Linked DNA regions of Homo sapiens. The protein of the gene in region 1 purifies or fractionates together with the protein of each later gene. This does not show direct contact. Each region holds a gene or a part of one and is shown on either strand. Other genes may lie near its edges. The genes, in order: ZDHHC11, TMEM200A, EXOC2, DGAT1, PDGFRA, FAM241A and RETREG2.

Evidence for each region.
Region 2: the proteins of ZDHHC11 (region 1) and TMEM200A purify together in Homo sapiens (co-immunoprecipitation; one large-scale study listed by IntAct). This does not show direct contact.
Region 3: the proteins of ZDHHC11 (region 1) and EXOC2 purify together in Homo sapiens (co-immunoprecipitation; one large-scale study listed by IntAct). This does not show direct contact.
Region 4: the proteins of ZDHHC11 (region 1) and DGAT1 purify together in Homo sapiens (co-immunoprecipitation; one large-scale study listed by IntAct). This does not show direct contact.
Region 5: the proteins of ZDHHC11 (region 1) and PDGFRA purify together in Homo sapiens (co-immunoprecipitation; one large-scale study listed by IntAct). This does not show direct contact.
Region 6: the proteins of ZDHHC11 (region 1) and FAM241A purify together in Homo sapiens (affinity purification with mass spectrometry; 2 studies listed by BioGRID and IntAct, with this or other methods). This does not show direct contact.
Region 7: the proteins of ZDHHC11 (region 1) and RETREG2 purify together in Homo sapiens (affinity purification with mass spectrometry; 2 studies listed by BioGRID and IntAct, with this or other methods). This does not show direct contact.

What each region holds. Positions count from the first base shown.
Region 1 is NC_000005.10:837,487-841,767, forward strand, and holds part of ZDHHC11 (palmitoyltransferase ZDHHC11), read right to left. Parts: exon of another isoform or gene 4,207-4,281; coding exon of another isoform or gene 4,197-4,206; exon of another isoform or gene 3,359-4,196; coding exon of another isoform or gene 3,317-3,358; intron 3,165-3,316; coding exon 3,009-3,164; coding exon of another isoform or gene 2,933-3,008; exon of another isoform or gene 2,862-2,932; coding exon of another isoform or gene 2,733-2,861; exon of another isoform or gene 2,596-2,732; coding exon of another isoform or gene 2,486-2,595; exon of another isoform or gene 1,956-2,485; intron 1,053-1,955; coding exon of another isoform or gene 1,019-1,052; exon of another isoform or gene 1-1,018. UniProt on the Homo sapiens protein: Endoplasmic reticulum-localized palmitoyltransferase that could catalyze the addition of palmitate onto various protein substrates and be involved in a variety of cellular processes.
Region 2 is NC_000006.12:130,364,457-130,369,344, forward strand, and holds the start of TMEM200A (transmembrane protein 200A), read left to right. Parts: upstream 1-1,560; 5' UTR 1,561-2,068; intron 2,069-4,888.
Region 3 is NC_000006.12:595,554-599,834, forward strand, and holds part of EXOC2 (exocyst complex component 2), read right to left. Parts: intron 3,673-4,281; coding exon 3,527-3,672; intron 3,389-3,526; coding exon 3,307-3,388; intron 2,571-3,306; coding exon 2,468-2,570; intron 1-2,467. UniProt on the Homo sapiens protein: Component of the exocyst complex involved in the docking of exocytic vesicles with fusion sites on the plasma membrane.
Region 4 is NC_000008.11:144,323,879-144,328,954, forward strand, and holds the start of DGAT1 (diacylglycerol O-acyltransferase 1), read right to left. Parts: upstream 2,975-5,076; 5' UTR 2,759-2,974; coding exon 2,559-2,758; intron 1,504-2,558; exon of another isoform or gene 1,440-1,503; coding exon of another isoform or gene 1,420-1,439; intron 1,375-1,419; exon of another isoform or gene 767-1,374; coding exon of another isoform or gene 738-766; intron 351-737; exon of another isoform or gene 129-350; intron 96-128; exon of another isoform or gene 83-95; intron 1-82. UniProt on the Homo sapiens protein: Catalyzes the terminal and only committed step in triacylglycerol synthesis by using diacylglycerol and fatty acyl CoA as substrates. Highly expressed in epithelial cells of the small intestine and its activity is essential for the absorption of dietary fats.
Region 5 is NC_000004.12:54,232,135-54,236,415, forward strand, and holds part of PDGFRA (platelet-derived growth factor receptor alpha isoform 1 precursor), read left to right. Parts: exon of another isoform or gene 1-37; intron 38-965; exon of another isoform or gene 966-1,309; intron 1,310-1,825; exon of another isoform or gene 1,826-2,337; coding exon of another isoform or gene 2,338-2,364; intron 2,365-4,281. UniProt on the Homo sapiens protein: Tyrosine-protein kinase that acts as a cell-surface receptor for PDGFA, PDGFB and PDGFC and plays an essential role in the regulation of embryonic development, cell proliferation, survival and chemotaxis.
Region 6 is NC_000004.12:112,147,882-112,152,162, reverse strand, and holds part of FAM241A (uncharacterized protein FAM241A), read right to left. Parts: intron 1-4,281.
Region 7 is NC_000002.12:219,180,494-219,183,624, reverse strand, and holds part of RETREG2 (reticulophagy regulator 2), read right to left. Parts: intron 2,956-3,131; coding exon 2,871-2,955; intron 2,564-2,870; coding exon 2,420-2,563; intron 2,257-2,419; coding exon 2,162-2,256; intron 1,986-2,161; coding exon 1,850-1,985; intron 1,613-1,849; coding exon 996-1,612; 3' UTR 1-995. UniProt on the Homo sapiens protein: Endoplasmic reticulum (ER)-anchored autophagy regulator which exists in an inactive state under basal conditions but is activated following cellular stress.

The DNA.
Region 1 (4,281 bases):
AGGGAAAAGGAGGAACAGGACAAGATACCAGCCCTGCGGCTTTGCACGGCGCCCACAGGACAGCTCAGCAGAGTGGCCAGTGCCACTGATCCGGCCCCTGCACAGGGAGAACTGCTCCGCCCACCATGCAGGCCCTGTGAGGTCAGGATGAGTGCAGGTGCCTTGTGGGCCCAGTTCTGCAGCTAGCTGATGGTCAGCAGGAGGGGTCTGCAGCTGCGACCTGGGGAACAGTGCTGACCCACGCCCCTGCCGCCTGCCACGGCCTCATTGAGCTGCATTGTTAGTGGTGTCAGAGATGAGCTGTCTCTCACAGACCTGGGTCCCCTATACCATGCAGCTTGAGAGGTTGCTCCAGATCCCCTGGGATCGCTGGCAGGGGTAAGAGACCAGCTCAGGAGGGGCCGCTCTGTCTGAGGGTCCAGATGGCCTGTGGGGTTCCCCACATCTGGACACTGGGTGGGGCGCACCTTGGGGGATGCACAGAGACCCCACAGTCGGAGGACCACGCAGTGGGGCGGCCACCCCGAGGTGCTGGCTAGCGGGTCCTGGGACCACACACTCCTGAGCGTGCTGAGAGCCCCAGGCCCAGGAGGTGAACACGAGTGCTGTGAGTGCCACTCAGCACAGCCTCTGATGGGGCTGAGACAGGTCACCATCCCTGCAGCCCTGCACAGTGCCCACAGGACAGCTCAGCAGGCTGGCCAGAGCCCTACCCACCTGGCCTGTCCTGCAGGCAGCAAAGCAGCCCAGGGAAGCAAAGCAAAACCTGATACACCCGTTTATCTAAAAGAGCCGTCTTAACAAACGTTAATAAAATGGGCTCTGCACCTATTTCAGCCACGAGCTTCCATGGAGGGGCCAAACTCTCCATGCTTCTTTCCCTAAACACCAACACCGTGAGAGCCGATGTCTTGTGACTATTTCTGGAGACTGGGGCGGCCGCCCACAGAGGCCTATTTGCAGTGAGGAGCAGATGGCGGTGGGCGCCCTGGGGAGCTGCCTGTGGCCAGCCCAGCCTTCACAGGATGCGTCTCACCACAGCCTCTCCAGTCCTGTGAGGTAGAGAAGAAGCTCCTGGACATCCTGGAGTCACTGCCCAGGGAGGCTCTGGGTCACGGGGGTGGGGACAGGCCTGGGCGTCCTGCCTCCCGCCCACAGCAGCCGACTGCCTGTCCTTTCATGTTTCTGCCACACTTGGTCTGGGCTTTGCGTTCAAGAAGCCCATTCCAAGTGCAGTGCCTGGCTCAGAGGACAGACCAGGTCATCCCTCCCAGCCCCGCATGGCTTCAGGCCCACTGCACTTCCCTGCTCTGCCGCCTGAGGCAAGGGCCAGCTTCTCTGCAGCACAAGGGCCTGCAGCACCCCACGTGCTCAGCACACAGTGGGCATTGACTATTTTAACCCAGGGAAACATTTTGTACACAAAGTTGGAAAAAAATGACAAGTGCAGACTTTGTATTACTGGGCAGTTTGAGCATCCCTTAATCTGCGGCACATGTGGATGAGACCATGTGGCCTCGGCCCAACCTCGGCCGATTCTCCTGTTGTGGGGGGACTCACCCTGACTCTAAGCATCTGAGGGTGAGAGATTTCCTGATAAGGAGAGATGATGAATTCTGGGTGGAGTGAAACTCCAGAAAAGCCTTCATAGGTGGTAAACCCAAAAATATTTAAATATAAGAGAGATTGCTAGATAATTCTAGAAAGTACTTTTAAAAATATTCCTGATTCTAAGAAGGGTGGAGAGTTTTGAAGGAGGCCCAAATGACTTCTCACTCTTAAGGGTTTCAGCTTCAGGAACAGGCAGCCTGTAACATTCTACAAGGCAGACGCGTGTCTCCATGAAGTTACACCTGAGGCTTTAGTTCCATTCCATTCAGTAAACATATCCTAAGCACCTATTCTATACAGGCACTGGCCTTGACATCCAAAATTAAAACTCTGAAAACAGCACATTCAGCTCTGTGTCCGTAGGATTTAATCCAGTGATTTTCATTGCACTTTCATTAAAAAAAATTCAACCCTCAGGCAAGACAACAGTGACTGTAAGATATGCGTTAGAGGTGTGTGTTTTAAAACATCCCCAGGGTTGTGTGGGGACAGTGGTTTGTAGGGTAACCTGTGGTTATGAACAAGGAGGCTCTTGGTGGGGTGTGTTCATTCTGAGCTGGGCGTTCTTGCCACAACTGCAGGCAGGGGATGCTCTGGAGATGGAGGTGAGCCCAGAGCCTGACCCACCCAACTCCCTCTGCCCTGACCAGGGGTTGGCCAAGCTGTCAGGAGCAGGGCATTCTTGGGGGCTGGCCTGGACACACTCTGCTGCCCGTGTCCACAGAAACCCCCTGAGAGGCCACAGCCTCGGGGCCACCACTGCCCAGAGAATGGAAGACGCTTTGCAGCTGGCCCACCATGACCAAAACGGCTGGTGCCAGGAGCAGGGAGGTTGTTGTTACTTCCAACACAGGTTTCCTTGGGGCTGGGGAGTTTACCCTCCGTCGTTCAGCAACATGACTGACCGCCTACCGCTGTGCCCACTGTGAGACCAAGCAAGACCACCAGCTCTCGCTTCAGTTGTTTGGTTAGTGGGTGACCTGCCTGTAATATATTTCATTGTTAGAATTTCTACTTGTGTTTTTGGAAGTCCACCTGTCCTTATTTCATAATGTCCTGTTCTTGCCTAATAGATTCCATTCCATTGTCTCTGAACATTTTAAACTTGTTACTTCAAGCACCTGGCACCACTCCTGCAGGTCTCGGCGTGAGTTCAGCTTCTTGCTGGGCCTGCTGGGTCCTCATGGATTTAATTTCTTCCTGTGATTTGCCCTTTTTGTCCATGATCTCACTTCTGGGAGAGGCTGACCCTGAACACATGCGCACACGGGGGACAAAGACTCTGGCCCCAGGCGTGGGGGGCTCAGGGTTAGGGACATACTCAAGTAGAGGTGTAAGATGAGCAGCTCTGACCACCCAGCCTTGGGGGGATCGGGGGCTTAGGGTGGGGGACATACTCAGGTAGATGTGGAAGATGAGCAGCTGGCCCAGGTGCACCAAGCCAAGAAAGTCCAGCAGGAGCACGAGCATCCCGATGATCACGACTATCAGGGTCTGCACCTGCACCGGGAACAGGGGGAGGAACAGCAGCCACGTGTTCATATTCTTGACATCTGGGGAGACAAGGGAGAGCCACTGTGTCCAGCACCTGCTGACGGGTGCCACATCAGGTGGACGTCACAGACCAGAGCGTGCTGGGGATGGGGCGGTGTGGGGACAGCCAGTGCGAGGGATGTCTCCCTGCCCAGGTGGACGCCTCCCTTACCTGAGTGCCCCGTAGGCCCTGCTGCCTTCGGTTGGTTTTCATGATCCCTGCTTTATGGATCTGGGAGGTGAGGCTCCAACATTGTCACTAAGTGCCGGGGTCACAGTGCCCACCCCTTCCTAAGTGCTGGGGTCACAGCGCCCACCCCTTGCTCACTAAGAGCCAGGGTCACAGCGCCCACCCCTTCCTAAGTGCCGGGGTCACAGCGCCCACCCCCCTTCCTCACTAAGTGCCGGGGTCACAGTGCCCACCCCTTCCTCACTAAGTGCCGGGGTCACAGTGCCCACCCCTTCCTCACTAAGTGCCAGGGTCACAGCACCCATCCCTTCCTTATTTAGTGCCAGGGTCACAGTGCCCACCCCTTCCTAAGTGCCGGGGTCACAGCACCCACCCCTTCCTAAGTGCTGGGGTCACAGTGCCTGCCGGCTCTGCCGGGCCCCAGCACCCATCCTTTCCTAAGTGCCAGGGCCCCAGCACCCACCCCTTCCTTACTAAGTGCCAGGGTCACAGTGCCCACCCCTTCCTTACTAAGTGCCGGGGTCACAGTGCCCACCCCTTCCTCACTAAGTGCCAGGGTCACAGTGCCCACCCCTTCCTCACTAAGTGCCGGGGTCACAGTGCCCACCCCTTCCTCACTAAGTGCCGGGGTCACAGTGCCCACCCCTTCCTCACTAAGTGCCAGGGTCACAGCACCCATCCCTTCCTTATTTAGTGCCAGGGTCACGGTGCCCACCCCTTCCTAAGTGCCGGGGTCACAGAGCCTGCCAGCTCTGCCAGGCCCCAGCACCCATCCCTTGCTCATGGCCCACTCTGTGTCCCTGGACCCGCTGCACCCTAAAACAGCTGCCTTCAAATAGAACAGGAAAGCCACAGCTCTCGCCTGGGGTCATTTCTAAGATATGGTCCTCTGTGACACTGGGCTGCCAACACTCAAAACCACACTTCCAAAAATCAGGCGTAATGCA
Region 2 (4,888 bases), on another chromosome or scaffold:
GCTTTACAGACAATGTGGCTTCAGGGTGTTTCTTTATAAAATGTAGAGGTAACTAGGAAGAGGGCCCAATGGAAGCACACTCCTTTGATATGGTGCTTGACAAACACATTTAAGAAAACCTAAGAGAATTGAGCAGGTGGCTGTGGGCTAGAATACTAGATGCAGGTGGGGTAAAAATAAAACCACAGATGGTTTATAAAGGTGACTCATCCTTCCCCCACCGTAACTCCTTTAGTTTTCTTTTCTTTCTTTTTATAAAACATTTTGATTGTGACATCTCCACTAAAAGTGCCCAATCTCTAAATTCTTCTAGTCAAGGCAAGAAGGTTATACCACAGGAAATCCATTTCTACAGTCTCTTCTCATTGCCATATCTGATTTTAAAGACTTTTTTTTCTAATGTGGAAATTTTTGCATGGCTCTCCCCCACCCCCCAAACACGGATTTTATACCCCCCCAGAAGCAAACTTTTCTTGAAAACGAGATAAACAGATCACACGCCGAAATAAACAAATACACTGCACCAGAATATCATACTTGCCTTCTATCACTTAAAACAGATCCAGGGGACACAAGCATAGCACACACCTTGTGCATGCGGCTGGCCTGCACAGGGGGTGGTTGGAATATCCGGTAATTAGTTTTACATGAAACTTTACTTACGGAATTGGCCTGCATATATACAGTCATCACCGTCTTTGCCGAATTAGAGACGACATATTTTACTCTGTGAACAGGCCAGTCTCCACTCACTGGATGTTTGGGGTCAAGGAGGAGTAACCTGAACCTCTCGTTGGCTTTGATGTTTGGAGTCGAACATCCGCACTGCTCATCGAAGACCCCCGTGCTTCAGTTCCCTCTGTCTTCCATTTCCCCCGCCCATGGTTCTCGCCCCCCCAAGCCGTTCTCCGGAACCCCTTGCCGGGCCGGCGGGAAGCGTGGACGGAGCGGGCCTTGGCCGCGTCTTTTCCGGCCAGGTTTGGTTTAGCTCGCGCAGCGCCCGCGCAGCCCGCCAGGGGGACCCCGGCCCGCCGGGCGGCATCTGAGGAGAAAGCGTCCGAGGGGCGTGGAGCCAGGGTCCTGCGGTGCCTGCTCCGGGAATACTGCGAGTCGGCTGGAGCTCCCCAGCCGCTCCGGAGAACTGGGGGAGCCGGGTCCCTGGCTCGGTAACCGGTGGTCCCGCGGTAGCTAGAGGCGGGCCCCACGGGTGGGTGTGTCCGTTTCCGCACGCCAGCCTTCCAGCCCGGGAAGAGCGCCTGCAAGCGGGTACTTTGTTCCCAAAGATGGGTTTTGTCTGCGGGTGATTTGGGCTCTCGAAGTGCAACTTTGTGGCCGGGACGCGGATCGGCCGGCCTGGGCTCCTGCAGAGCAGATCCTGTCTGCGTCCTCCAGGAGGAGTGGGTGGCAGGACTGGGGTTTCCCACAGGTTTTGGGGCGGCGGCGAGATTGGCACGGTCCGGGGTCGCAGGCGCGCAGCCACGCCCCTGGAAGTCCGCCCCGGCCCCCGCCCCCAACCCGCCTCTTCGGGGCTTTATGGCGTGAGGTTTGGGGCTGGGATCCATCTGGAGCCGAGCAGAAAACTTTTCCCCTCCCGTTCCCGGTCCCTTTTGTCTTTCTTGGACGCGGTGGCGGCGCCGCCTGAGCGGCGACTCCCTCTCCCCTGCCCGGCTTGCTGCGCCCGGTGCCCTCCGAGGGCAGGCGCGCCTGGACTCTGCGCCCGGATGGCGGCGGCCCTCTGTGAGCACCGGCAGCGGCGCATCCCCTGCCCCGAGGCCTCCGGTGCCCCCCCGGCGCGGGCATAGGGGCGCCCCCACCCTCCGTCCGCTTGCACCCCTTGCCACCCGCCCCCTCGCCTGACTCATCCGCCCGCGGTGGCCGCCCGAGCCCTGGGATGGGGAGGGAGACCGCGGCTGCCCGCGGCGGCCGAGATTCCCGCTGACGCCCCCGACCCTGCCGCCTTCTTCGTCCGCCTCCAGAGGCGCCCGACGTCCCGACAGCTCCTGGAGTGAGACCAGGACTGAGAACAGGGAGAGGCGACCCGACCCCCAGGGCCCGGTGCTCAGGACAGGTGAGGGGAAGGAAAGGGTGCTGACGGGAGTGGGGAGGTGGGTGGGCGGCCACCGCAGCCGAAACCGGGCACTTCTTCAGCCCTCTGCCCTCCCCTCCCCTCCGCTACAGCCTCCAGAGTTAGGTAAACGCTGTCTCTCCTAAAGTTTGGGAAATAAACCAAGTCCGCCATCAGGTCCAGACTCCCCAGTCCCGGGAGCGCGAGAGAAGCCGTGCGGGGCAGCCTCCAAGAACCCGGAGTACTGGAGCGCCTGGCTGGGTTTCTCCAAGCAACACCCTCCTTTGTCTCGGTTCCTGAGAGTCAGCATTCTCTGTAATGTCCACAGCGTTAATTCATGATTGAGCAAAGTATGGTCAGGGTTTCGTAAAGCAGTATCTGGATGGGGTAGAATCTACACAGGCAAAATGGAGAGGCAAAGCAATTATTTGCAAAATTCAGCACTACTCTTCTCCCTGTAGTCTTGTCTGTAAGAGAAAGGACTGAGGGCTTCTAAGATTTGCTTCATTAATCATTCTTTTGCTATAAATTGTTCCAGCCAACACTTCACATTGTGTAGGCGCAAGCTCTCTGTGTGTATTTACCGCTGTTTGATTTAGAAAAATGTGTGTGTGTTTGTGTGTTTTTTTTAAATAACAATTCATTGTTCAGTACCGGGCATTGGTAATGTCGGAGAGAAAGGCAGATGCAGCACATACAGGTAATTGACTAATTGGAATCAGCCTTAGTCCGGTCCACCTTAGTCTGGTGTATTTAAAAACTAAATATGTTGGACTAAAGTGTCTCTTGCCTTGTCTCTTCTGAATACCTTCAGAAGTAGTTATGGACAACTGCATAGAAAACATTTCAAGAATCGATGATTATTCTTGTTTATAAGAAAGAATATTGAACTCTCGGTTTTGCAATCAAACCAAGTTTGAGGCACACTTTCTATAGTGCTGTATGCATAAATATTACCAGAGCTTGTGAAAGCTATTTACTTTGTCGTTTCTTGAATTATGGAACACTTATAAAAAGACCTTCAATTTGTTATTTGGCTACTGATACTAGAAAGCATTATCATTTTGTGAAAAGTAGACTAAATTTTGAAACTTTTTAAACCTTACTTTATTTTCCCACTGTTTACCTACACAGAAGTATGTAGTTGTAGTTTCATTCTTTATAAACACCTCAAGTGAAGAATAGAAGTCCTTCTAAACAGAAAATAATGCTTCCATTAAGTGGAAACTATAGTTAAATGCTTTGACAATTTAACAGTATGATTTTTTTACTGTAAAAAACACACACTGAGGTGTTTAGAATGATTTTTTAACCAAGTCCTACTAGATAGCTCATAATTATGAGATAATGTAACTATAATTTGTAACCCTGGTTATAATTAGCTTTGTATCTGGGCTGGGAAAGCCTTCATTAGAGTTGTATGGAAAGTCCCTGTAGGTAAATTCCAGGCAGTTAGCACAGAAAGGCTTCACCTGTTGCCTTTGAGGCAGGTCTAGGTAAATGCTGTAGTGTCTGAAGACACCCGTAATCAGAAGGGATTCTTCAGGAAAGATCATTGTAAAGAGGGATGGCTGTACTTGTTATTTTAACTTAGTGGAATTTTTAGTGAAGCTTTTGAATACTACAGGAGTTAGATTGTTATATTTGGACTTGTGTAGCTTCAGAATTTTGACAATAGCTCATTGGCCAGAAAAGGATAACTACTGACATATAGAGGGAACGGATCTGAACTGATTGGTTAAATGCTGTACTTCTCATGATGACTCTTAGCATAAAGGAAAGAAATTCATATTTAGCTTAGGAAGATAGATAAGAACAAAGATAAAAGCAAATGTCAACTTTTACATTTCTTAAGCAAAATTAGTAGAGGATAAAAAATAAGCCCTTGTAGTCATACACGTTACTTATCAAATAGAGGGTAGAATTTAAAAGAGGAAAAATAACTTGTGCAGCAACAGAAATCCAAACCTGCAATGAGATGGACCTCATTTTATTAAGGAATGTATATCTGATTTACAGTTTTATCAAGCAGATCCACTTGTTCCTGGACTTACGCTATGTTTTGTCTGCTGAGATCTGATATGTGCTCAAACACTCAGAAAACATCAGTGAGTGCTTATTGTGGTGTCATGCTAGCTACCCTTCCAGGCCTTTTCTATGGGCTTATAGGCTGATGGAGAGGGGACTGATAAATGTACCACAGATCACCTGGCAGCTGAGGTGGTCTGAGAGCAGCAGGGGACCAGTGCAGACTGGGAAGCAGCATAGTGGGTTGCAGAGGGACCTGGATGGGGAGTTGTCATCTTGACTGAGTCACTAATTAGGTGGCTGTGGGTAAGTGGCTAAGTTCCTCCACCTTTCTGCTCCTTGGTGCCCTTATCTGCAGAATGAGGGCTTTGGACTGACGATCTTTATGGTCTCTCTTTAAAATGCTGCAAGGCAAATTCTGGCAGAATTAAAGAGAGACAGAAGTCAGTGTGTGTGTGTAGGAGGGTGGTTTGTAGGGTTTTGGTTGAAGGAAGCCAGGCTGGAGGGTCTTGCTAGTTGTATTGAATGGGAAATGGCAAAGAGAAGTAAAAGATGTCTGGCCTGGGACATCTGACCTAACATTGATTATGTGAATTGAAAATACATAATAAAATAATAAAAATACCAGCTTTCACTTAGTACTGGGTGGTTTTCCATGAATTTTCACAAATGATGCAATAGATTTTTGTAACAACCCTCGGAAGTAATTAGAGCAGAAAGGTGATGAAGCTGGGACTAATACTGCAAAGCACATCTGCACCAGTATGCGCCACTGCCTTTCTGCAGGATTTGTAG
Region 3 (4,281 bases), on another chromosome or scaffold:
TTTTTTGGCACTACCACCTTTTAAACGATATCCAGTAAGTTATATACTCATAAAAACTGCACATGAGTTATCCATATAGATGGTAACCCACAACATAAAGAATTTGTACACTCAACAAGATTTAACACACTACTATAGGCAAGTTTAACATAACAAGTGTAAACAGGCCAGAAATATACAAAGCACACGCAGTGAAGGAGCAGGGCAGGAAACAGCAGCCTCAGGACGTCTGAGGCTACCCAGCTGCGTGTCCTGGACACTACGCTCAACCTCCCTGCAACTCTGTCGCTTTCTAGGTAGAAAATAAAGCAGTTGGATGACAAATGTGTGGTTTATTTCCAGCTTTACATTTCTAGGATTCTACAAACCAGGAAAATCCCCTATATACATTCTTTCTTATGGAGGCAGCTTAGAGAGAAACAAGAGTGGGCTCTGAAGCCAAACAGGCGTCCCGTCCCCCGGGTCACTGTGTGTGCTGGGCAAGCTTCCGTGTTTTCACCTGTACAATGGGCACCGCACAAGCGTCCTTTCATGGTGGTGATCAGGATTAGAGAGGACATGTAGAACACATCCCGCACAGCGCCTGAGCATGCTGCACACGTGCAGGGGTGGCAGCATGCAAACACAGCACCCTCTCTTCATCCCACCGCCACTGCCTCTGCTTGCTTCCTCCTGGGCAATACTAGTGTGCTGCCAATGACGACGGCTCATACTCCCGCCGTACGCCTCATCACTAGGACACAGGTCCAGGTGCGGATCTTTTCCCCCGTTCACACTTGCACACACAGCAGCTTTCAGGCCAGACGCTCTTTTCAAGACAGTCTTTTCTTTTCAGAGACAGGATCTTGCTGTCACCCAGGCTCGAGTGCAGTGGTACGATCACATCTCAGTGCAGTCTCGAACTCCTGGGCTCAAGAGATCCTACTGCCTCAGGCTCCTGAGTGGCTGGGTCTACAGGCATGCATCCCCGCATCTGGCTAATTTTTGATTTTTTGCAGAGACCAGGTTTTGCTATATTGCCCAGGCTAGTCTTGAACTCTTAGACTCAAACAATCCTTCTGCCTTGGCCTCCCAAAGTGCTGGGATCACAGGTCTGGGCCACTGTGTCTGTTCCTGAGACATTATTTTCAAAGGTCACATGGGGACCACAGCTAAATTCATAAATACATAGTCTGTCATTTTACAACCACTGAATAGTCAATAAACTTCACTAATTCAAGTGGAAAAACCATTAAATTTGGAAAATAATTTATTCTGAGAACAAAGGCCATACTCAAAAAATCCTAGCAGAAAATGAAGTTAATATTTTTAATCACAGATATAAAAAACTTAAAATTTATATGCTTTATCTCCAAACCCTGACATAAACTACATGTACATAAAATTTACTGACTACTTTTTATGTGCCGGGTGAGGTATTAAACCCTTAAATGTATTTCTGATTATCTTTGCAACTATCCTGAGATGCAGATTTGATTACCATGTCCATTTCAGATGAAGAAACCGAAAAATAGAACTCAAGTCGGTTGCCCAAAGTTAACAGCTAGTTCCCATTATGTGATACTGTTTCTCTCTAAGGCCTTCTCTTCATATCCTGTGAAATTCACCTCTCTTAATATCACTGCAAATTTTTTTTTTTAAGACAGAGTCTCACTCTGTTGCCCAGGCTGGAGTGCAGTGGTGTGAGATCTCGGTTCACTGCAACCTCTGCCTCCCGGGTTCAAGCGATTCTCCTGCCTCAGCCTCCTGAGTAGCTGGGATTACAGGCGCACATCACCATGCCAGGCTGATTTTTGTATTTTTAGTAGAGATGGGGTTTCACCACATTGGTCAGGCTGGTCTCAAACTCCTGACCTAGTGATCCGCCCGCCTCAGCCTCCCAAAGTGCTGTGCTGGGATTACAGGCATGAGCCACGGTGCCCGGCCCAATATTACTGCAATTTTTTAAAAAGTATGCTCACTTAGTGACTTTATTTCTCTTTCACTGACCACTAAAGGCTTGGAAATCAGAAAGCTATTCAAGGTTAAAACCTTCCAGAACTTACTGTGCTGTTAAGCAGCAGCACATTCTTGTGGCATAATGCATTTCCCACCCAGTGTGTGACAGTATTCTGCTTTAAGCCATGCAGGGAGCCCCTCCTTCACAGATTATGGGTACCCACACCATCCCACTAGGCAAGGTACCCCTTTGCTCAGCAGGAGGAAGAGGTTGAGACTACTTTTCCTTTCCCGAAAATGGCAGAGTTTTCTCAAAAAGTGAGTAACTCCATAACTACTCCCAAATCTATTAGTATTCAAAAGAATTTTGATGTCCTACGCCAGATAACCCTAAATTTCTGCTATTTGTCTTCCCCTTCACCATTTCATCAATCTCCTAAAGTCCCTCAAGTTAGCCTTAAGGGTTACAAGATGCATACAGTACCAAACAGATACATGTGATTCAACAAAATGTTTGCAGAAGATTTACCTTATGTAACGTTTTTGGTCATGTAAAGTTGATGGTGTCTCAAGCAATTTATCCAGAAGTAATTCTCTTAAAGCTTCAATCCTTGTTTCTACTTCAGCATAATCTATTTAAAAAGAAAAGAATACACAAGATTTACAGAATGAAAATTTAATATCAAATTTCAAAAAGCAGAATAGTAGTTGCTTTTGTGGGGTGAGGGCTAAGAGGCACCAGGGCCGTGTCTAGAGTGATCAGAACACTATCTCCGATGTAGGTTACAAGGGTGTACATATTTGTCAAAACTCACTGACCTCTAACATGTGAGGTCTGTACATTTCACTGCATGTATATTTTACCACAATAAAAAAATAAATTTAGTTTTCTGGGTCCTTACAGATTTCATTTTTAAATTTAATAAGGCCCTGTGATATTTCTCCTGGTGGACTGTAACTCTGGCATTAGACATAACTTCAAAAGTTGCTGAGCTTCCTTTAAAGGAGGTTGGAATTCTTCAGTCTATGGGTCTCTCTGAAGACGGGAAGATTAAAATGTAGGTTTCCATCTCTAGAAAATACTTGTCATTGATTCCTTCCAGTAAACTAAGACTTTCTAACAGCGTGATGGTTAACAAACGGCAGAGAACGTCTCAGGCGAACAACCTAGAGTCGTGGTTGCTCATTTTCACTGCGTATCAAATAAGAAAAGTCATACTGTTATTTCTGAAGTAATTGCTTTACATTGTAAAGAGAGCCTCATATAAACAAAAACTAAAAACTCATATAACATTCTTTGCAGAACACATTCCACATTCTTCCTATAAAAGGAAAGGAGAAGATCTAAAAGTAATACATGAATCTTACATTTCTTGAAAACTTGCACCTCCGTTTTCCCAAAAAGTGACTTGGCCTTTTCATAATCATTAATAACCACATCATAATCACCCTTTAAAATAAAGAAACATTTTGAAAACTGTCAGTAATGCAAAATGAAGACATTTGGTTAATATAAAAAACATCTTAAAAAATCTTAAAAATGTATGACATCTACAACCATATGTAAATAAATAAACATGTACTCTACCTTTTGAATATTCCTTTCAATATTTAGAGGAAGGTTGAAAAGAAACTTAAATCGCTGAAGCACATTGAGTGCATTTCTAGTGGAATCTGCCTTGTCTTTCCGACCTAATACTTCTTGAAACAATGTGTCTGCAGTATTACTTGCTCCTGTTTTAAAAAGAGGAAAGGAAACTTAGATGAAAGCTGATTTTAATCAGAAAATGTGTAACTGGGCACTAGAAACAAAATGTTAATACTGCTATTGTAGTTTTACGTTAAAACTCAGACTGTTTTTCAGTTTAGGGGATCTTTTATGGTTTGCTAAAATAAAATTTCCATTTTGCCTAAGTCTTTTCATATGTTAAGAATGGTATCCAATATAAAAAGCACCATATTTACCATGCCCAAATAAATTCTCTAATGTGAACCTACATTTATTTTCATTACACTTCTAAACTGTATAGCAATTATGGGCCCTTAGGTTATTTCAGAACTTCATACAATAGGGTAAAACACACACATACGCATGTATGTGCATACACGTGTACATTAGCTAAATTCTGCGGACTCAATATCTACATATGGGACAATAAACAAAACAAGGAAATCATTTTCAGGAAAGTTGCTCAATAGAAATATTTAAAACAAATTCTATTCCTTGGCAGAATTACCTCTACGTAGCAGGCAAAGAAAATTATATAAGTAATTTACAAATGACAAATGTGAAGGCAGCATCATGAATATTTCTTAAATCAGCTAATCTTATAAAAGTATACA
Region 4 (5,076 bases), on another chromosome or scaffold:
CAGCTCTGCTCACTGCCGCCTCCTCCACTCTGGCCTCTGGGCTGGGCCTGGGTTCAAGATGGTTGGGGCAGGCTCCCTGCACCTCGCAGACCCTGCTGGAGAGAGAAAGGGAGAGTCAGAAAGGACACCTCAGGGACAAAACACCCTGGGAGAAGCCAGAAACCGGATGGCCCCGACTGGGGTGCCTGTGAGCAGAGGGCTGGTGGGTGTGTGCAAAGAGCCTGGCAGGAGTGAGCCACAAGCAGAGCAGAAAGGGGTGCCCTCTCCTGCCTGCCTCACAGCCTCACCTTGCCACGGGGCCGGAAGAAAGGAGCTCACACCCAGAGCCCAGCCCTAGGTGAGCAGGAAGTGTCCGTGAGGGGAGGAGGCCCGAGCTCAAGGAGTAATGAGGAAGCGGGAGAGGAAAGGCTGGGCTGGGCCAAGAGCAGCAGGAAGCTGGAGGGAGGGGAGGCTGTGAGGCTGACAAGGGGGTGCGCTAGAGGCCAAGTCCCAGGAGGGCAGGCAGAGCAAGGCCTGACGCAGACAGCAGGGAGAAGAGCCCAGTGTCCACAGCCAGTGGCCGAGCCCTGCTGCATCCCTAGGTCTGAGGGACAAGCACACATAGCCTGCAAGTCCTGGAGACCCAGGAGCAGATAGACTTTTGGTCTCAGCCTCCAGCCCCATGAAGGCCTCACCTCTCCATCTACTGCCCCTCTTCCCAAGGAGACCCGACCTCCACGGCAGGGACAGGGACTCACCAGGCCTCTCCCACGAGCTCTGCACCCATCCCACACCAGCAGAAGTACAGGAAAGCCTTGCTGGTTTGCAAAGCAAGAAGGTGACTGCTCTCCCCTGCCTACCCCCAGGTGGCGGCTTGGCCCAAAGCTGGGACTACCCTCATCTCACACTAAAAAAAATCTCAATTCCCGGCCGGGCGCGGTGGCTCACACCTGTAATCCCAGCACTTTGGGAGGCCAAGGCAGGTGGATCACCTGAGTTCAGGAGTTCGAGACCAGCCTGACCAACATGGAGAAACCCCATCTCTACTAAAAATACAAAATTAGCCGGGTGTGGTGGGCGCCTCTAATCCCAGCTACTCTGGAGGCTGAGGCAGGAGAATCACTTGAACCTGGGAGGCAGAGGTTGCAGTGAGCCAAGAATGTGCCATTTTACTCCAGCCTGGGCAACAAGAGCAAAACTAGTCTCAAAAAAAAAGAAAAGAAAAAAAAAGAAATCTCAATTCCCACGTCCTCCACAGGTCATGTAGCCATCCCCCTGCCTCCTGGAGAGAGGGTAACTCCAGGAGCCACACCTCCTTTTCAGGTAGGAGGTGCCTAGGCCAGCCTCCCTCACCAGCACCCCAGGCCCACAGCAGGCAAGCACCCCTCTCAGGAGGGCCACCCTCCTCCCCACGGCCCCTTCAAGGCCTCCGTGCCCGACCTTTGTCCATGTTGCTCCATGCCTGACTCTCGCTGAGGTTATCTTATCTCCCAGATGAACTGAGCACCCTGAGGGCCACGACAGTGCCTGCCCTCCCCCAACCCCCTCCCCATGGTGCCCCGTGAAGGAAAGCTCTGTTCTTGCTCACTGAGAGAGCAAATCATTGCCAACTACATGTCCAAAATCAGCCCACTTCTGCCTTGATAACCTCTAGGCCCTCAGCTGCTCTCTAAAACAAAGCCCTGAGGGCCCCTGGGCCAGGGTAAAGGCCATAAAGGGGGGATGGAGGGTGGCAAGGGGATTGCTCAAGGCCAGCTTGGTGGAGGAAGCCAATGCCCAGGCTGGCCAAGTCCTTCCCATCGGCCATGGTTCTCTCCCTCCACCCCTCTCTGTCAGTCATCCAGCTGAGCAGGGCACACGCCTGCAGGTGTGTCCACCACCCCCATACCCCACTCCCCACCTGGAGGATGGAAGTCCCAACACAGAACCCAACTCTCTGTCCCTACAACAGACGCTGGCTCTGGCAACATCGGCAGGGCTCCAGGCCAGCCTAACCACTGGAGCAATGAATGGGCCACGCAGCCACTCTCAGAAGGGTCTGCAAGGACAAGAACGCCTCTAACACTGCCCCTTGTCCGGGGCAGCTGCTGATTCCCCTGTCCTCGGACAGGCCTGGGCTCCTCTGGCCCCCTCCCTGGCAGGCCAGCCCTCCTCTGGGAGCCTTTCCTACCCGCAAGGCACCGCTCATAGCACCAAGAAGGAACCTATCACCACAAACTGCCCAGATCTTATCTGACTCCTTCCATATAAGGGGACACTGTCCAGGGCCGGGCCCCCACCAGCCCGCCCCTCGAAAAGCTCCTCAGGAGCCCCTGAGGATGCACAGACCCAAGAGGATCTGGATGCGGGACACCTGCCGGCTCCCCTCTGCCTGGCCAAGGCCAGCTCCAGAGCCCCTACCCAGTGACCTTGTCAGGTGACTCTCCCCAAGCCTCAGTTTCCCCACAGGGCCCATAGGGCACACCGATCCCCGCTTAGCCCAGGGCCCATGTTCTCGGACTCGGAGCTCGCGCTTCGGCCAACCCCGGAAAGTCGCGGGGCCCTTGGGTCAGAGGTTAGGGGGTCAGGCGCTCCGCTACCTCAGCTCCCAGTGGCCGCTGCCCACGCCGGCGTCTCCGTCCTTGTTGGGGGCCGGGGCTGGCGCGTCCCCCGCGGCTCCCACGTCGGGGCCCGCAGCGGCGTCCCGCACCTCCTCTTCCGCCGCCGCAGGCCCGCCGCCGCCGTGGCTCGAGGGCCGCGACCCTGTCCTCCGGCGCCGGGAGCTGCCGCGGTCGCCCATGGCCTCAGCCCGCACCCGGCCGCAGCCAAGCGTGGGCCCGCCGGGTTCGTAGCGCCCGAGGCGCGCGGCCCCACCTCCGGGCCCTAGACAACGGCCGCCACTGCCCCCTGCCGGCCGCCGTAGCCCGGGTGACCGCCTCACCAGCGCGTTCAACCCGCCCGCGTCGGGCCCGTCGGCCTCAAGGACAACGGCTGCGTTGCTCCGGAGCCGCTAACTAATGGACGGCCGCCTCTCTCGTCCATTTGTAGTCCGCGGCCGACCTGAGGCGGGGCCTGGAGAGGCTGACGGGGCGCAGGGCACCCTGGGAGTCGTAGTCGCCGCGGGCGCGCCGGCGCAGAGCACCCTGGGAGTCGTAGTCGCCGCGGCCGCACCGGCGCAGAGCACCCTGGGAGCCGTGGCAGCTCCCAGGGCCGGGGCTGCGGGCCGCAAGTGCGCGCAGCGGGAACGGACCTTGCATCGCTCCCGCGTGGTCCCGGGGTCCTGTCCGGCCCCACGGAGCGGGATGGTCCGCTGAGGGGTGCGCTGGGCCCCGACTTCCTGGCCGCTGTGCGCCCGCCCCTCGTCCCACTTGTGTACACACGGGGTCTCGGCGAGTCACTCCGGGCAATCATTTAGGAAGCGCCTAGTGCGCCACGGTCCAGCTGTCCGGGCCGGTGTCCGCGGCGGCTCGCGTCGCCCGCCACCCAGCGCGTTGGTTTCTGCGCACGCAGCTTACAGTAACGTCCCTGGCGCGCTTCTGCTCCGCGAGCCCTCTGGTTACCCCGGCAGGAACCTGCTTTTCTTCGCCTTAGGGGGACGTCAGACAAGGGCCAGGTCAGAAGACCAAGCTGGAGAAATGCACCAGGCCCTGCGTCACCGGGACGCCTGCCTTGCACGCGACTCCCAGGCTCTCCACCTCCCCGCCTGCAGAGCCCGGCGAGAGGAGGGCGAGGGCGAGGGCGAGGGCGCAGGCCCCTTGGTGGTGTCTTCTCAGCCCACCCACTCTCTCCACAAGGAGCTCCACGTCCCTCAACTCTCAGGGCCTCCCAGTTTCCAACGTGGGCCAGCCTCTCCAGGATGTCAGAAGTCTGGGCCGCTGGATCGCCGGGACTCAAGAGGCTTCTGTGCATTTGCACGGCCTGTGCAACCGCCCTGTTGTTTTTTGTTTTCTTTTTTCTTTTTTTGAGACAGTCTCACTCTGTCGCCAGGCTGGAGTGCAGTAGCGCGATCTCGTCTCACTGCAACCTCCACCTCCTGGGTTCAAGCGATTCTCCTGCCTCAGCCTCCCGAGTAGCCAGGACTACAGGCGCGTGCCACCACGCCCAGCTAATTTTTCTGTTTTTAGTAGAGACGGGCTTTCACCATATTGGCCAGGCTGGTCTCGATCTCCTGACCTCGTGATCCGCCCACCTCGGCCTCCCAAAGTGCTGGGATTATAGGCGCAAGCCACCGCGCCTGGCCTGTTGTTATTTTTTCTAAAGATGGGGGTCTCGCTATTCTGCCCAGGCTGGTCTCGAACTCCTGGCCTCACGCAATCCTCCCACCTCGGCCTCTGAAGGTGCTGGGATTACAGGTATGAGCCACTGCCCCAGACATCTTGTATGTTAAATGAAGCAACTAATCAACTGTAACAGCCACAGTTGCGGCCCACCTTGGCTTGGTGTGCATATTGCACAGGGCATGGAGTGAGAACATCCTGGATCTCAGGATGCCAGGGTTCACTGAGGACTCTGACTCTAGAAACACCTTCATTCCTCTGGGGTGAGCAGGGGCAAGCAGCACTTCTCTGGAAGCAAACAGGTGCTCCTCCTGAGGTGGGGTCCTCTCCCGTGGGCTGGTCACAGCCTCGCCTCTGAGCTCCGTCCTCTTCCACCACCTCCACCAACAGTGGCCAGCAGGGCTGCCCCCTTGGTTGCCCCCCTGGTGACATATTCTTGTCACCACAGGCCGCTGTGGGTTGCTGCCAACCAGGTATCAGGCAGGCTGGAGCTACCTGGCAGATGCCCTTTGTGTAGCCTGCCGAGTGGGGCCGCCCTCACTGGACCCAAGAGCCCCTCACACATGGGCCTTGGTCGGTCAGGACCAGCCCCATCTCCTACCCAGTCTCTCAGAATATTCATTTGTTGAATGCAGTCGCTGGCAGACACACTCTGTGGCCAGGTAGGCCCAGACCTGTCTGAGTATGGACTGACAGCAAGCTCAGAGAGGTCTGGACCTGGCCACGGAGCACCTCATGCTAGGCAGAGGAGATCAACGACTCAACCTGTGGTCGCGTCCCAACTCAAAGCCGGCAAGTGGCCACAGGAGAAAGACAATGGGAGGGTGGACTGGACCACCAG
Region 5 (4,281 bases), on another chromosome or scaffold:
TAGGAAAAGAGCTAAAAGCCGGATCGGTGACCGAAAGGTGTGGGTCTCAGGGTTCCCCGGGTCTAACTCGCCGGGTCCAACCGCAGCATCAGCCTTGGGGCGGCAGATAATCTTTCGGTCTCGCCTGGGGCGCAAGATGCAGGATCGGGGGCAAATGGCTTCTCCCAACTTCCCCCTAATTCGGGTTCTGCCAGATGGTTGTCGTTTGCTGAAGTGGCTCGGCGGCATTTCCTTTTGTTTTAAACTGATCAATGAGCGAACCTGGGATGGGCTGAAAAAGTAGATTGTAGGAGGGAATAATGGGAAACCCGACTTGGGGCGCCTCCTTCCCTGCCTCCTACTGCAGTTTCTCGGCCCCCGCGAAAGGGGAGCGACAAGCGCGGGTGGGCGCGGACTCTTGAGGGGGCAGAGGCGGCTATGGCGCGTGTCGGGCAAGGTGGCACCAGAAGGCACTTTTGTGTGTGTGTGTGACAAGAGTCTCGCTCTGTCGCCCAGGCTGAAGTGCAGTGGTGCGATCTCGGCTCACTGCAACCTCTGCCTCCCAGGTTCAAGCGATTCTCCTGCCTCAGCCTCCCGAGTAACTGGGATTACAGGTGCCCGCCACCACGCCAGGCTAATTTTTGTATTTTTAGTAGAGACGGGGTTTCACCATATTGGCCATGCTGGTCTCGAACTCCTGACCTCAGGTGATCCGCCCACCTCGGCCTCCCAAAGTGCTGGGATTTACAGGCGTAAGCCACCGCGCCCGGCCAGGAACGGTTCTTAAATGCCGAGAGGGCGCATGCTAGCTCTCCTCAGCATTCCCGGTGAGCCGCTACCCACGGCCGTGCGGCTCTCGTGCCCATAGGAGGCGCTGGCGAGCTCCTGTAACCCTAAACCCCTCGGCCCCTTTCCCCCCACCCGCCCGGATTCTCTTCCCGCTCTCCCCCCTCTCTCCACACCCGCCCGGCCCCCTCTCGGGTCTCAGTTGAAAACAATGCAAACGCAGAGCGTCGTGCCTGGGGCGCAGCGGCCTCTGCAGCTCTGAGGTTCAGAGCGCGGCGCGCAGGGGCGCAGGGGCGCAGGTCCCCGGAGCGGCTGGGCATCGCCGCCAACCCCGGGACAACCAAGCCGCCGAGGACTTGGTGGAGGTGGGAGGGAGAGCGGACCGCGCAGTGTTCCTCTGGGTCCCGGGGTCAGAAGCCGGACAGTGGCGGGGGCTGGACAGTCCGAGCGCAGAGCCTCCCGGGCGAAGTCTGCGCGCAGCACTCCCGGCTGCGCTGTCGGGGACCAGGAGCCTGGGCTGCGGGCGAGCTAGCTGGCGAGCCGGGTAAGATTCGCGGGGCTGTCGCGCCCTCTAGTGGGCTCCGGGGACGCATCCCGCTTTCCCCAGCCCCGGGCGGTCGGCGCCGCTATCTCAGTGGAGCGCAGCGCTGGAACCCCGGGGGCCCGGAGCGGAGGCTAATCTGGGTCACCTTTCCCCTCCTCCGGGCAGCCAGTGGACTCCTCGCAGGCTCTGTGTGGGCCCGGGAGGCGCCGGGTGGACGAGAGGGGGCCGAGGTCTCTGGGTTTGGATTGAGAATGGGACGTCCTTGTAATTCAATGTGGGAGAAGCAGGGGAGTGTGGAGGAGGACGGGTCCCGTGCGTTCTTGGGGGGCAGGCGCCGTCTTCTGCGTTCCAGCCCCTCGCCAGCTCCCTTGCCCCGCGGGCGGCCTGTTGCTGTTTGTTTGTTTTACGACCCTGCGTTATTGTGCAACGGTAACAGTCGTTTCCAATCAGCTGCGCGGCCGTCGCGGCCCTCGCCAGGCTGGTTTATGGGGGCGGCGGTGGCGCGCGGACAGATAGGACAGCGCGGCCCGGGAACGGCGTCGAGGTCCAGGCGGTCCCCCTGCCCCGAGGGGGCGGAAATGCTGAGGTGGCGAGAGCGTGGGTTGCACAGAACCCTAGTAGCGAGTCCGGCTGAGCCTCTGCGGCCTAGCCCAGCAGCGTCGTCTTCCCGGCTCCGAAGACGTCTTCCCGAAGCCCCGCTGCCCCGGCGCACCAGCTCCCGGTGATGGGGATGATGATGGGGATGATGGGGAGATGTCCCCGAATTCTCCTGGGGTCCCGAGGAGATTTAGCCATTTTCAACAGCAGTTTTCCTATTTCTGCTTAAACCCCGCGGGCTTTCAACTGAGGTCACCACGAAAGCTAAAAGTACAACCTAAGGAAGGAAGAGACTGGAAATTAACATTTGGGGTAGTGGAGCTCAGAATTCCTCGCAGCGGCGTCTGTGTCGCAACCCGTGGACGCACGTCCTTGGACCAACACTGCCATCTGCTGGCCACTCGTAAGAACTACTGCGACCCGCTGTGAGAATGGGCTTCGCGGAGACCATTAGGAAGGTGCTTTATTTTTTATTTTTTATTTATTTTTTGCTCAGTAGGACCGTAATAGGTGACTGATTTTCTTTTGCTGTGAGGCTACAAGAATTGCTGGAAGACAACATTTTTATTTCGTGGAAATTTGTGTTGTGTTTCTCCTTGGTTGTTAATGCTTTGCATTTACATAGTGAACATCTTATTATCAGAGCTGGCCTGTGAGGAGGGTAGTGGGGGGGCATTGATGTTCCCGTTTCTGAGTGAGGAGACCTATGTCGGGGCCTTGGTGACCTCAAGCCGAATGCTCAAACTGCTACTGCTACTCCTAAGGTTGTGCCATTAGGAGTCACACCCGTTTGGTGATATTCAAAAGGATATGTCATTTTATTCTCCCGTGGTTAAATATATGGTGAGAGGAGAGCAGGCATGTTTATGAGCCCAGATTGTCCCATAAAAGGCTCCTGTTTAAAAACACTCCAGCCCCCTCCCATTACTGGAATGTCTGATGGAGCTCCGGGAGATCAAAACAACAAAACAGGCTCTGGTAGGGTGCAGAGGTCCTGGTAAACACACCCTCTGCTGGAAAACAGGGAGAAGTTTCCACCAGTGTAGACCTGCACTTGGTTTGCCTGGGCTGAAGTTAGGAGACTGCGTAGAAAAAGGAAAATGTGTAATTTTCACAGTTAGAATTAACTTAGGAGAGCTGAAATTAACTGAGCCTCGGAAATCTGAATCTTGAAGTCACCAGTGGCTTTTGGGGCTGTGAGAGAGTCTCCTGTGGTCTTTAATCATGTGAGGGTGGGGTGAAATTCAATATTCAGTGGTTCTGCAATGGGATGCACTGTGCAATTGGTGATTGAGAAGCCAACTCTCTGGCTTTAGGAGAAGAATGTCTTGCTGTTAGTCCTTCTGGAAATAGAGCCTTGCATTGCCTACTGTCTGTTTACACTACCTTTGCACATTGCCTTTGGTTATAGAGTCATGTCCAATGGCTCTTTACTTCTGTTTGCAGGGCAGGAGATGGCACCCTGTTAAAGAGAAAGGATAGTAGCTGCAAAGTCATTTGTTTCTCTGTTTCTGTGACTGTATATATTGGCTCATCTTTGAATGGTCTTTATAGCCACACCAGGCTGGAGGTAACAGGGTCATGGGAGTGGACTGCTGGTGTGGGCTGAATCAGAGTTCAGATCCATGTCTCCAGGAGGTAGGAGGTGCAGGGCAAGTCATGTGGCTTCTGGGGCATCCCTCACTTTCTTAGTTAAGGAGAAGTTGAAGGAGCCGATCTAAAATATCTTGGGAGTCTGCAGAAAAAGTCGTGAAAATCAAAGCACTTTCAATTAAACTATATAATTTAGTCCTTACAAGAATGCCACAGGGCAAGCAACCAGTCAGGCCTTGGTAGTCGTGCTTCCTAGAAGAAAAGACTGAGGTTCAGAGAGTTGGATAGAGTATCAGATTTGGGATCAGTGGCTAGTCCAATGTGATTTCCATCCTTTCTTCTGAGAGAAAGCATAAGAAGGCCAAGAGGATGGTGGAAAAGCACAAGTCACCTGCCTGAGAGTCAACAGGGCGGGGGGTCTCTTTCTCAGTTTGTTCCTCTAAGTTATGGCAAATGTTTTTTGAGCTGTGATTATTGAGAATGGGGGCTGAAGTTCAACATGTAGTTGGCATGAGGGAAGTAATTATGATTGAAGAAAAGATTTGGGTGAAATCTAGTGTTCTTCCCTGCAAAGGGGGTTGTTCTCACGGATTCTTATGGTGCCATGTTTCTCAGAATTTGTAGTTTCAGTTACTTATATTTGCACACCTGACTTTAGATGAGCTCCAGAATAGCAGTTACTAATTAAGGATGAGCATTTAGAGTAGATAAAAGTGGCAGGAACAGCAAGACTCACTCCCAGAGAGCCTCACTACAGGTCTAATAGGTGAGGAAATTCCCCA
Region 6 (4,281 bases), on another chromosome or scaffold:
CTGGATGATTTAAAAAAATGAACAAAAGATGCCTATCAAATGCAAAATTATTCCCTGAGTTACTCTAGTGACTGGATGTCCTTAGGAACAAGATGAGATTAAGTTAGGGCAGAATTCAACTAAGCTCATAGCACTTATTACAATATTGCTTGCAAACTGCTTTTAAAATACGTGAAAGGAAGTGAGTATAAACTAATATTTAGTTTTGAACTACACCATCTAAAGTAGGGCAGAAAATTTGTCAGACTGTTTTTCCATCATGTAATGTGCTTTTTGTATTTGTGAAACAAACAAACAAACAAAAAACACTAGCTTTGGTGTTCGGAAACCTGGGTTCTAGTCTGCTCTAGCATGAGTTAGCTGTAGGACCTACAGCAAATAACGTGGCCTAGGGAACAACTATTGGCTTCTCATATTTTACCAAGAGTTTAAATATACACTTCTAAGAAAATAGTTAAACAACTTCATATGTATATATTACTGATACTATGTTGAAGGGCAAGTGTGGTGAATACAGTATATTGACTTGCTTATTCTCCATTCCCTTGCCAAAATGTGGTCCATGGGCACAGCATCAGCATCACTTAGGAGTTTGTAGAGATGCAAAATCTCAGACCTCACTCCAAACCAACTGAATCAAAATCTGCATTTAATAAGAGATGATTCCTATGCACACTGAAGTTGAGGAATACTTGTGTCAGTTTCCATTGCTATAAAAAAATCAGACACAGACAATATAGCACTGGATAATTTATAAAGAAGAGAGGTTTATTTGGCTCATGGTTCTGCAGGCTGTACACGAAACATAGTGCTGGCATCTCCTTCTGGTAAGGGCCTTAGGAAGCTTACAATCATGGCAGAAGGTGAAGGGAGAGCAGGCAGTGTCACATGGCAAGAGGGAGGGAGGGAAGGAGAGAGAGGGAGAGAGGTCCCAGATTCTTTTAAACAACCAGATCTTGTGTGAACTAAGTGGGCGACAATTTACTTGTCACCAAAGGCATAGCACTAAGCCGTTTATGAGGGATCTACCCCCATGATCAAAACACCTCCCACCAGATCCCACCTCCAACACTGTAGATCACATTTCAGTATGAGATTTGGAGGCAACAAACGCCCAAACTATATTAATGCTGTTCTGCTTTTCGCCTCAGGTGGTTTTCTAATTGCAGAGGCTGGAAAACTTAAAATTGCCTTTCTCAGATTTCGTTTCAGTTAGGACTTTGGTCCAAAATTAGGCCTAACAGCTAACACTCACATGCTAGATAGCTATGTGCCAGAGACTGCTCTAAGTACATCTCATATATTATTAATTCATATAATCCTTCCAATAATCCTATGAAGTTGTTACAATTATTCCCATTATGCAGATGCAGAAACTGCAGCCCAGAGAGGTTAGTTACTTGCCTAAAGTTACAGTCAATAAAAGGCAAACCCAGGTAACCCTGATCTAGAATCTGTACTGTTAATCATATTTCTACTGATAGATCAAAAGGCATGGACCCCCCTCACTGAACCCCCCATTTTGTTTTCTTTTTTACAGATCATCTCATGGAACACACTTTGGCAAATGCTGTTACAGAAGTTCCTTCATTTATTTACTTACATTTATCTATGAGCCAGCATTGTTCTGAAAGTTCTAGGCATTGCCAAAGGCAAGAAATAGAAATGAGACATTATCATTTGAAAGGAAGCAAAATTATTTTTATCTATAAACTGGATAATTATATACCTAGAAGATGCAAATGAATCAAGTCTAAGAGCTACTAGTATTTATTAGTACCAGTATAAAAATTTAGAAAGATGGCCAGTTAAAAATGAAATACATAAAAGCCAATAGCTAGAAACCACCAACAAAATATGATATGGAAAAAATCCTTTTCATAATACCAACAAAAATATAAAAACTTAATACAGACTTTAATATAATCCTTAATACTATAAAAGATTATAAAGCAAGGCAGAAAGTACATTATTCAATGATTAGGACAAAAAAAGATCAGCTCCATACTTCATACAATATAGAAAATCATTCTAAAGAGATTAAATATATAGAGTAAAAAATTAAACCATAAATGCACACATACAAAAGAAAACATAGGCAAATATTTAACTGATTGTAAGATTAGAAAAAATTTCTTAATATGTATAGAAAGAGATACGTGTATACATGTGAGTGGTGTGTGTATATACGAAATTACCAAAAAAATTCCTTTAATAAAAATTCAAAGCATTATCAAATTTTAAAAAACATAAATAAAATTATAAAGTAAATAGCAAGCAGAGAAAATATTTACAGCCAATGTGAAAATAAGGGATTAATATCCTTATAATGCCAAAAGAAAAAAAATGACTAAAAAGAAATACAAATGCCTAATAAATATATGAATGGTTTAGTAAACCTCTCCAGCAACAGCTTACAATATGATAGAAGTTTCACCTATGAAATTGGCAATGATTATAAACTATATTGTTCATTGCTGGCATGGATGGTTTCCAACTGGCCTTTTTACACACCAGTGCTGCAAGTGTAAATGAGTACAACCTTTCTTGAATTAAATTCTTTAGGATGTTTCAAGAGGCTTCAAAGAGTTTGACTCATTGACCTAGTTCTTCTACTTCTAGGAATCTATACCAGGGTAGAAGTTTAAGGATTTACAAGCAAATATTTTCAGACAGCACGATTTATAAAAGAAAGCTTGAAGCAACTTCAATGTGCGGTGTTAGGGGAATGAATTATTTGGCAGCCCTAAAGAGAGTTTTCACATAGAATTTCCATAACATGGGAAAATGACACAACCTTTTGTAAAAGAAGACACAAAATTATATTTATATTAAAACATATTAAAAATACATGTGTGGCTGGGCACAGAGGCTCAGACCTGTAATCCCAGTACTTCGGGAGGCTGAGACGGGAGGATTGCTTGAGGCTAGTAGTTTGAGATTAGCCTGGGCAACATAGCAAAACCCTATCTCAAAAAAAAAGTGTGTATATATGCATATACACATAGACAAATGAATATACTGTAGTAATACCAAGTTTCATATTTGATATCAAAATATTTGATATCAAAATCCCAAAATAGAGTGGGATTTCAAAGGCTTTTTTCTTCTTTAGATCTTTCTATAGTTCTAATTTTCCAAAGCACACATTACTTTTATAATCATAAAGACGTTAAAGCTAGAGTTAATAATTCGAAAGTCAATCTAAGGATAATGGGACTTCCCTATTCTCTAGGTAAGAGGGTCATGTTAGGTTATTTCAGATTGTGAGTGACCTGTACATTGTGCCACATCTAAGCAGATGCTATTGACATTTAAGGCATATAATAATGGACTAGAGATGTTTAGCCTTTCAGCTATGCATCAGGGCACAGAAACTCTTACATAAAGCCACCTGGCATTCACCCTCATGAACATACTTGGATCATCTCTCATACACACAATTACCAACACATATATGGAATAGCTGTGTCCTGTCCCTTCAGTTTCTTGGACATTCCCTGAAATTGCTTCTTTCCCTTGCTTATCTCTCTTTAGACACCTGATCCTATTTCAAACCTGGCACAGTTTCTTCATCTACAGGACTTGATTCATTCTCCCAAGGCCTCCTTTCTTAAGTGACTTGATTTTAACCAGGCATCCTTTGTCAATCGCCCTACCTGGAAAGACTCAGGCCAGAATGACAGAAGAACCTTCATTTTTTGCTCAAATGGAGTAGCATCTAAAGACAAATTGTTAAAAATGATGCAGACAATATCTTAACTAGTAATAAAACACCTATGTTAATACTAGGTGTTTTATATATTTCATATATATATGAAATAAGTAACAAAATAAAGATACATTTTGTTCTGGTATTGTAATAACAAGCTGATGAAAGAGCTTTCCAGGTTGAGGAAAAGGAATGAACCTTTCAGACAGAAGTGGAAAGAAAAATCAGTGAAGGAAGGGATGTATGTGGACGAGGATTTAGCTTGAGAAATAGCCCAAGAAAGAAACCTCCATCAAATTATTAGGAAAGGGCAAACTCTGTGAGGGGAATAGAAATAGAAAGGGACTTAATACAGAAAATTAGGTGTTGACAAAATCATTGAAAGAGCTAGAGGAGCACAAGTCAGGTGCCTCTGGAGCTATGGTGTTCAAGAGCATACAACCATAGCTCTTTTCTGGGTTAAAAGGAGCGCCTCTGCTAGCTCCTGCCTCTAATTTCCTCTCAATACCCATGAGGCTATCCATGACTCCGGAACACGAAGTGAGCGTGCCAAGTAGAAAAGACGGCAG
Region 7 (3,131 bases), on another chromosome or scaffold:
CTTGCTTCGGCCCTGTTTTGCAACAAGGTAATAAACAGCCAGAACAGACTGGAGTGAAGCAGGTTAAGGGTGAGGAGAGAACACAGTGCAGTGCAGGGTGTGGAAGGCAGCTCACAGTCAGGGAGGCAGCAGTTCTAGCCAATCAACACTTTATTTTTCAAGTCAACACCTGCACAGATGTTAGTGTCCACTTCCTGACCCTAGTAGGGGGTCCCACTACACTTGGATCACCCAGAGGAGCAGTAAGGAAGCTCCTAATCTCAAGAGAGAGCACATGCTCACCAACTCCAGTGCTGGCGCCATGTACTGCGGGATCCCTGCTCTCCTGCATCATGAAAGGCCGGGCTGAATGGGGCAAGGATGCAGTGAAGGTTACACAGACTACAGTGACCTAAGAGTGTAACTACTGGCCTGACCCACTGCCCCAGGTTTACTCTTTACTTCCCAGACCAGGAGCCTCCCTAAAGCTTGGCCAGTGCCCACGGGATAGGAGGAGCTGGCAAAGGATGGGGTTGAGCTGCTAAGGACAGGACACAGCAGGGAAATAAAGCAGAAAGGAACACAAGACAAGAGAAAAATTATAAAGTGCCTCAACTAAACAACCAAGTGGGACATGAGGGCAGAGCAGCACAGGTCCCTGAGGATAGGAGGAAAAAGAAAGGGCCAGACCACCAGGGCTTGGGGCATAGTGGAATGAGAATAGAGATGAGGCAGGGAGGCAAGCGCAGGCTGTGGGAAGGACTTCCCTAGCCCTGTTCACATCCACTAACCCAAATGGAAAATTATTTACAAATTTAAAACCAATCCTAGGCACAGGTACTGCACCATGCCCAGGACAGCAGGCAGGCAGGCAGGCAGAGGGTGGAATAGCTACCATCCGACAGCCAGCTTCCCCACACACTGCCCCACCCCAGAGTGGTAGGCAAAGGAGGAAACAGCAACACTCCTAGCCAGGAAGCCCTACTGTGCCTGCAGCTCCTTCCTCAACGGCTGGCTCATGGCTCTGCCACGGCCTGAGCTTCTTGGTCTGACTGTACCAGAGAATGGATGTCGGGCCCCAGGGGTGGAGCATCAGGGGGTTTTGGCGGTGTCTCTGGCTCCAAGCCCAGCTCTGCATTCAGCTGCTCCAGCTCCCCCTGATCCAGCAACTCAAAGTCCTCAGTGGTGAGTGCCTCTTCTTCCTCAGGGGCAGGCAGGGGCTGGGGTGAGTCCTGGGGAACAGGTGGGAGAATGGAAGGGGAGGGGGCTGGGTCACTTCCAACAAGGCAAAGTGGAGGTGACAGGGTGCCGGGCAGAGCAGTGAGGCCACCACTCACTGTCTCGGGGCTCAGTGTCTCCACTGGTCCTCCAGGGGAGCATTTCACTCCATCTGGGGGGGACCCTGCCCCATTGAAGTGCGTGTTCACAAAGTGGAGGGGGGATGAGAGCCGCAACAAGGTTTCCTTAGCTGCCACATCCTCTTCCTCTTCCTCCGAGTCCAGGGCTTGCCTTGACAGAGCTTGAGGACGGCCTAGTAGGTCTTCGGGAGGGGCCAGCTCTCCCTCCTCTCCCTCCCCTAGGTCCCGGCTTAGGGTCTCCTCTGGTTCACTTGGCAGGCTCTGCTGGTCCAAATCTGTGCAGAGAACAAAGAATTAAGAATGGGCCTGCTGCTGGTCTGATTAGCCACAACAGACAATGAGTTCAAGGATGAGAACTCAAGACATGGAAAGCTGGGCCAAGCCTTAGGTGTTAAGGTCTTTTAGGAGCTGAGAGAATTAGAGAGTGAGTGGGCCAGAGAGCACAGTAAGTACCCATGGTAGGGAACACAAAGATTGTGGCGGGGAGCAGGGCAGCAAAGGGCTCCCCATACCCTCGGAGACATCAGTCAGCTGCGGAGTTGTGGCCCGGGATACGGAGAAGCCACCACTCTCCAAGATAGAAGCCTCCTCATCTGACAGCTCTGAGTCTGTAATGGCCAAGGCCAATGCTGTTTTCTTCACATCCACCTGGCAGGAGAACCAGGATGAACACGACATGTGAGGGGATAAGAGAACCAATTTATCAGGAGCATCCCCTCTCCCAAAACCTCTGGCTTCCACCTCCTTTGGAGGTGGCAGCTCCAAAGCAGAAAGATTTTTCCTCTGGCTTTCTATTTGACACCCCCGCTTTCCCTGGACCTCACCACTGGGGAGAAGCCAGCCAGCTCTGCCTCGCTTTCACTCTCTGTCTCTGCCAGTGGCTCATCACCTCCTGGGGGTGCATTCTTCCCCTGACGCTCTAGAAAAGCAAGAGTAGTAGAGCAATGACCAAGCATGAATGATGGGAGGGGAGACAAACACAGCTAAAGAACTGGAGAAGATCTCAATTCCAGGGCATCTCATGAACCCCAAGCCAAGGCCCTCCCGCTCTTTCACCCTCCTGGCTTAGGGCAGCCCCTTACTCCTCTTGTCGTGTTTGTGATGCAGGGCATTGGCTTCTGCCTTCATGCTGTAGTCCAGCTGCATGAGCAGGGGCTCCAGGCGAGTGTACATCCTCTGGATCAGCTCATGATAAACCACCAGGGGCCACAGCAGGATACTCAACACTATGGGTTAAGAACGTGAACTAAGAGCTCCCTACGCCAATTTCCTAAGAGCCCCCATTCAACTGGTCCCTAAACTGAAGTGCTGAAGGTAGGCAAGGTCCTTTCCCAAGGCTGTGCCAACCTCTTCTTGCCACATCCACTGCCCTCCTCCCCAGGTAAGTCTTCCACAGTTACTAATACTAAAGCATCCCTGGAGATCTCCACAAATCAGAAACTGAGCAGAGAGAGCATAGTCTTCCCTCTGGGTCAGTCCAAGGAAAGAAGAAAGGAGAGGGCTTTAAATAGGGCAGGGACAGACCCTACTCACAGACAATGTAGGAAATCATAATCCCTGGAACATAGTGTCCCAACACAGCCAACACAGCACAGCCAGAGCAGACTCGAACGCAGAACTGCAGAGAAGAGCAAAAGTCTAAGAACATCACGCTGAGATATGCGCCCCGCTCGGCTGGGTAAGAAACTACTGCTCAGCTGGTAGAAGGATGGGTATGTACTCAAGGAATGGGGTGGTCCAGTTTGGTTAAGAGGATGCTCAAGACCACCAATTCAGGAAGCTGGCAATACATAA